Regions from separate parts of the Homo sapiens genome. Here region 1 is linked to region 2. Evidence: fine-mapped expression QTL. Tissue or cell type: lung. Region 2 holds a variant in brackets; the other region holds the start of a gene. All regions are shown on one strand. Distances are between the middles of the regions.

The links. PIP is the estimated chance that this variant, and not a neighbour inherited with it, causes the effect.
Region 1: KANK4 starts here. The variant in region 2 is fine-mapped to the expression of KANK4 in lung (GTEx, PIP 0.90).

Annotation. Positions count from the first base shown.
Region 1 is chr1:62,317,951-62,320,450 of GRCh38, reverse strand. KANK4 (KN motif and ankyrin repeat domains 4) reads left to right here and starts at 1,017. Exons shown (of 10, transcript NM_181712.5): 1 at 1,017-1,345. RefSeq lists enhancers at 977-1,699, 1,700-2,424.
Region 2 is chr1:62,350,816-62,353,654 of GRCh38, reverse strand. No RefSeq gene overlaps it. Among named protein-coding and RNA genes, the nearest start is that of KANK4, 33 kb to the right of the region's middle. RefSeq lists an enhancer at 1,843-2,343. The variant A/G (reference allele first, on the strand shown) is at 1,109.

The DNA of each region.
Region 1 (2,500 bases), 33 kb after region 2:
GCCCATTGTGGGGGTCAGAGCTGGCATCCGGAGTCTTACGGGGTCCACGGCCCTCTACTTGCCTATCTCTGTTGTCTTCATCTGTAAAGGAGGAGTAGCAGCAGCTCCTTTTTCCTAGGGTTAGGGTGCACAACGCCCACCAGGCACTTAGTGAACTGTTCATTCAAGGTTAGCGGTTGAAACGCAAACATTTTGAACTGATAAAAAACTCTGGTGGGCCGGGCGCCGTGGCTCATGCATGTAATCCCAGCACTTTGGGAGGCCGAGGTGGGCGGATCACCTGACGTTCGAGACCCGCCTGGCCAACATGGTGAAACCCCGTCTCTACTAAAAATACAAAAGTTAGCTGGGCGTGGTGGTGTGCGCCTGTAGTCCCAGCTACTCGGGAGGCTGAGGCAGGAGAATCGCTTGAACCAGGGAGGCGGAAGTTCCAGTGAGTCGGGATCGCGCCACTGCTCTCCAGCTTGGCCATAGAGCGAGATTCCGTCTCAAACAGCAACAACAACAACAAACCTTTGGTGGGAGGTCGGAGTGTGAAATGAAAGACTTAGGGTTCCTGAGTGGGACTACAGCAAGGATTGGGAAGAAAAAAAGGAGATGGAAAAAGACGATTTAGGAGAGGTAAAAGTTCTGTTACTAGGACCCCAGCCCTCACTGGCCCACATCCGCTGGCGAGGACCTAACTTACTGCACCCAGCTTCCCAGTGGCCAGACCTAGGTTCCAGTCCTGGCTGGGGCAAGTCATTACCTTGTCTGGTGCTGTTTCTGCACCTATCAAATGAGGATGGAAATGTCTAGATGAACCGAGATAAACGCATACGAAAGCACTTTGGGAATCTGAAAAGCGCTATGAACAGGTTAGGAGTTTTTGGTCTCTTTTCAAAAAGTTTTTCTTCTAAGCTCATGTTTATCAAGGGCTTTTGAGTTTATCGAGGCTAAGACCCTCCCCTCGGTTTCGCAATTCTGCCCCTTCCTACACACCAAAGTCCGCGCCGCGTCAGGAGTCTTTTTTTTCTCCCCTAGCGAAGGCGGGGACTCGGGCGCTGTTGGCAGCTGGCGACGCGGGGCGAAGCCGCGGCTGGCGGCGCCTGGCCAGTCCCGCATCCGCCGCGGTGGGTGTGCCCGCAGGGGTGCGCCGGGGCCAGGGCCGAGACCGTCGGCCAGAGGGCGCCTGGAGGGTGTGCGCGCCGCGGACGACCAGGGTGCGCCAGCCCCGGGGTGCGCGCCTGGGACGCGGACAGTGCACCCGGAGGTTGCGTGCGCTCCGAAGCCGGGGTGTGCGCCTAGCTGCCCCGGCCCCGTGCACCGCGGGCCGCCTCGCGCAGGACTTCCGCAGCTCGCCAAGGTAAGGGACTCTGCGACCCCAGTCCCCCGCAGTGCGTCTGCTGGGGTGTTCAACACCCGCCCTGCGCGACCCGAGTGTTGGCCCCGGCGCTCGACCACTCTCCTCTTGCCTCTGCCACCCGCCTCGCCCAGTCCCCAGCGCCGCGTCCCCGGCTCCCTTTAAAGCAGTGGCTGCGGCAGCTTGGGCCGACCTGGCGCCCCCGCCTCCCAGCCTGGGGTCTGCGACAGAAAAGGAGCGGGGCTGCTCGGGCTGCCCAAAGGTGGGCGCCGCTCCCTTTCCAGCCCAGATTGGCTCTCCGCGCCCCAATTCTGGGGGTGGAGAACACTGGTGAGGAGGGGGAGGCCGTGCTGTCCTTGCGACTCAGGTGGTGCAGCCCCCGCCCAGCTTTTCCGAGCTAGGCGCTGCGGTCTGGGATGCAGCCTGCGGGACTGGGCGTTCTTTGCCGCGGGCTCCCACTGCTACCTGGAATCGAGCTCTTAGTCTCTCTCCTGTCGCAAAAGTCTCCCCGTAGTGCCAACCCTGGCACTCCTCGGCCCCTGGCTGAACTTTCCAGGGCTCCCTTTGGGCCGCGACCTTGGGCGGAGGCAATGGGGCAGCTCCGAGTGCTCTAGACGCCGCCGAGGGCGCTTTGCCCAGCCCGCATGCCTCCTGTGGGCTCCTTTCCCTTCTGCCTCTCCGGTAAGGTCAAATCTGTGACTGGGTACTTTGACCCCGCAGACTGGCCAGAAATGGGAGTTGGAAAGTCGAGCCCATGGCCGCTACGCTGGGTCTGAACCTAACTCTTGCCCTGGGCATCCTTCGGGGCTGCCAAACTCAAGTCTTAGTTCCTAAGCGCCCTGGAGTGCAAGCCTTTAGGGCAAAGAGGGAGTATTTTCCAGGAGAGGGAGGAGGACCCCCTGAGGCCTGGGCAAAGTCCTATCTACCAAATAGGGCCAGAGGAGGATCAGATGCAGCCAGTGACCCGGCTGAGGCATGGGGAGAAAGCATCTTGAGTTAAACACGATTCCCAAGGACCTGCTTGGGTAAATCAAGCCCAGGTTGCTTAGAGCCTCTCAAAATGTGACACAGGAAAGCTACACTGGGAATGGAGGCAGAGTCCGTTCTAATACTGCCTTTTCAAGCCCAGCCTTCCCACTTCACTGGACCATAATGTGA
Region 2 (2,839 bases):
AAAGTGTTTTCCCTCCCTACAGCCTCTCTTCCCTCCAATTCATTGTCTCTTCACCTGGCACTGTCATCTTTCTAAAGGACAGTTGTGATCCTTCCACTTTCCTGCTTGAAAACTTTTCAGGGCTCCCCGCTTGCCTGCTGGCCCCTCCAGAGTCACCTCGTGTACTCCTCCTGTCACTCCCATTGCCACCGTCCCCCAAGCCCCTGAAATTCCGGTCAGGTGGTCACCCTGCCATTCTCCAAACAAGCTTCCCTTTCCTGCCTTTCCTCCTTTTAGCCTCTTGACTCCCATCCTTCCCCCTCTCCTCTGCCCACGCCAGCAGACCCAAAGACCAGCACAAATGTCACCTCCATGAGGCCTTTCCCCTCTCCTCCAGCCCTGGCTGCCCACCTCCTAGGCAGAATTGCGACTTTGTGCTCTGTGACCCTGCACACTGTCCCTGAAGCTTACTCATCATAAGGTAGTGTGATGCCTCCAGCTTTGTTGTTTTTGCTCAGGATGACTTTGGCCACTCTCCTTTCTTTTCATCATCCTTCAGATAGTTATTAAGGGTTTCCTGTGTGCCAGACCCTGGGCTGGACACTGGGGATATTGATGATAATAAGGAATTTTTTTTCTGTTTTCAAGAAGCTCACAGTGGCCAGGCATGGTGGCTAATGTCTATAATCCCAACAAGGAGGCCCAGGCAGCAGGATTGCTTGAGCCCAGGAGTTCTAGACCAGCCTGGTCAACATAGTGGGATCTTGTCTTTCAAAACAACAACAACAACAAAACCCACAGAAAACAAAACCAACTTAACTAGGTGTGGTGGCATGTGCCTATGGTCCCAACTACTCAGGAGGCTGAGGTGGGAGGATTGCTTGAGCCTGGGAGATCAAAGCTGCAGTGAGCTGTGATCACACCACTGCACTCTAGCTTGGGTGACACCCTATTTCAAAAAAAAAAAGCTCACAGTGTAGAGGGATGTGGTGGGGGAAGGTACAGAATATTGCAATCTAGACACTAAGGCACAAAGTTCCCCTTTCATAGGGCACTTTTCTTTAACTTACAGGCTAACAGTTCTGCTCCTGGCTTCTCTCCCGTTTGTCCACTACAGTAGGTGCCATGC[A/G]TATTTCCCAGTTGCTCCCGGTTCCTCTGTGGGCCACCCTGTTTACTGAAGTCAGTACTTGAAACTTGGAGTCACGGTCCCTCAATGGAATGAGGCCCCTCCCAACTAGCACCAGGAAGGATTTAGAGAGGCAGGCTTCCTTCTCCGGCTACCTGAGAAGAGGTCCCTAGGCCTCCCCAGACTATCAAAGCAGTCCATGGCACAGAGAGCTTAAGAACCTTGGTCTAGGCTGGGCATGGTGGCTCACATCTGTAATTCCAGCACTTTGGGAGGCCAAGGCAGGTGAATCACTTGAGGTCAGGAATTCGAGACCAGCCTGGCCAACATGGTGAAACCCCGTCTCTACTAAAAATACAAAAATTAGCTGGGCATGGTGGTGTGTGCCTATAATCCCAGCTACTTGGGAGGCTGAGGCAGGAGAATCGCTTGAACCTGGGAGGTGGATGTTGCAGTGGGCTGAGATCACACCACTGCATTCCAGCCTGGGTGACAGAGTGAGACTTCGTCTAAAAAAAAAAACAGAACCTTGGTCTAGCTTCAGGTCAAGGCCACATTCAGGTGACACACCCAGGGTCCTGAAGCTGCTTAGATAGCACAACTGGGACCACAACCACATCTGCCTGTGAATATCACCAGAAGGGACCTCCTCATTCTGAGGGCCTCTCCACAAGGACCACTCTTCTACGCATCCCATCCCTTCGGACACCTGGCAGAACACTTGGCAGGGAAATTCAAATGGGTTCCCTAAAGCGGATCAAGTGCTGCCCAAGTGCAGAGTCGTCTCGGGGGCTAGAGGACAGTGCTCCTTCAGGTGCGGCCCAGAGACCTGTGTGGTCTGAAAACTGTTACTGGTCAAAGAAGCTAAAAGTACAGAAATTGAGAAGAAGGGTTTAGAAATCCTTACAGCAATTTGACTATAATAATAAAATAAAGCTTGCTTTTTATATGTCTGCTTTTTCTTTTAACAAAGACAAAGGCTTATATTTTGCACCTATGTCTTTCATTTTATTTTACAAAATCATCTGTATGCAATGGATTGGAAATTTTTATTTTTTATTTTTATTTTTATTTATTTATTATTTTTTATGAGACGGAGTCTCACTCTGTCGCCCAGGCTGGAGTGCAGAGGCGCGATCTCGGCTCACTGCAAGCTCCGCCTTCCAGGTTCACGCCATTCTCCTGCCTCAGCCTCCCCGGCAGCTGGGACTACAGGTGCACGCCGCCATGCCCGGCTAATTTTTTTTGTATTTTTAGTAGAGACGGGATTTCACCGTGTTAGCCAGGATGGTCTCGATCTCCTGACCTCGTGATCCGCCCGCGCTGGCCTCCCAAAGTGCTGGGATTACAGGCGTGAGCCACCGCACCTGGCGGAAATTTTTGAAATGAAAACTAAACAGCAACAAAAAATACTAGTCTTGGCCGGGCATGGTGGCTCACACCTATAATCCCAGCACTTTGGGAGGTTGAGGTGGATGGATCACTGGAGGTCAGGAGTTTGAGACCAGCCTGGCCAACATGGTGAAACCCCATCTCTACTAAAAATACAAAAATTAGCCAGGTGTGGTGGCCCGCGCCTGTAATCCCAGCTACTCAGGAGGCTGAGGCAAGAGAATCACTTGAGCCTGGGAGGCGAAGGCTGCAGTGAGCCAAGATTGTGCCACTACATTCAAGCCTGGGCAGCAGAGTGAGACTCTGTCTCAGAAAAACAAACAAACAAACAAAACAAAACAA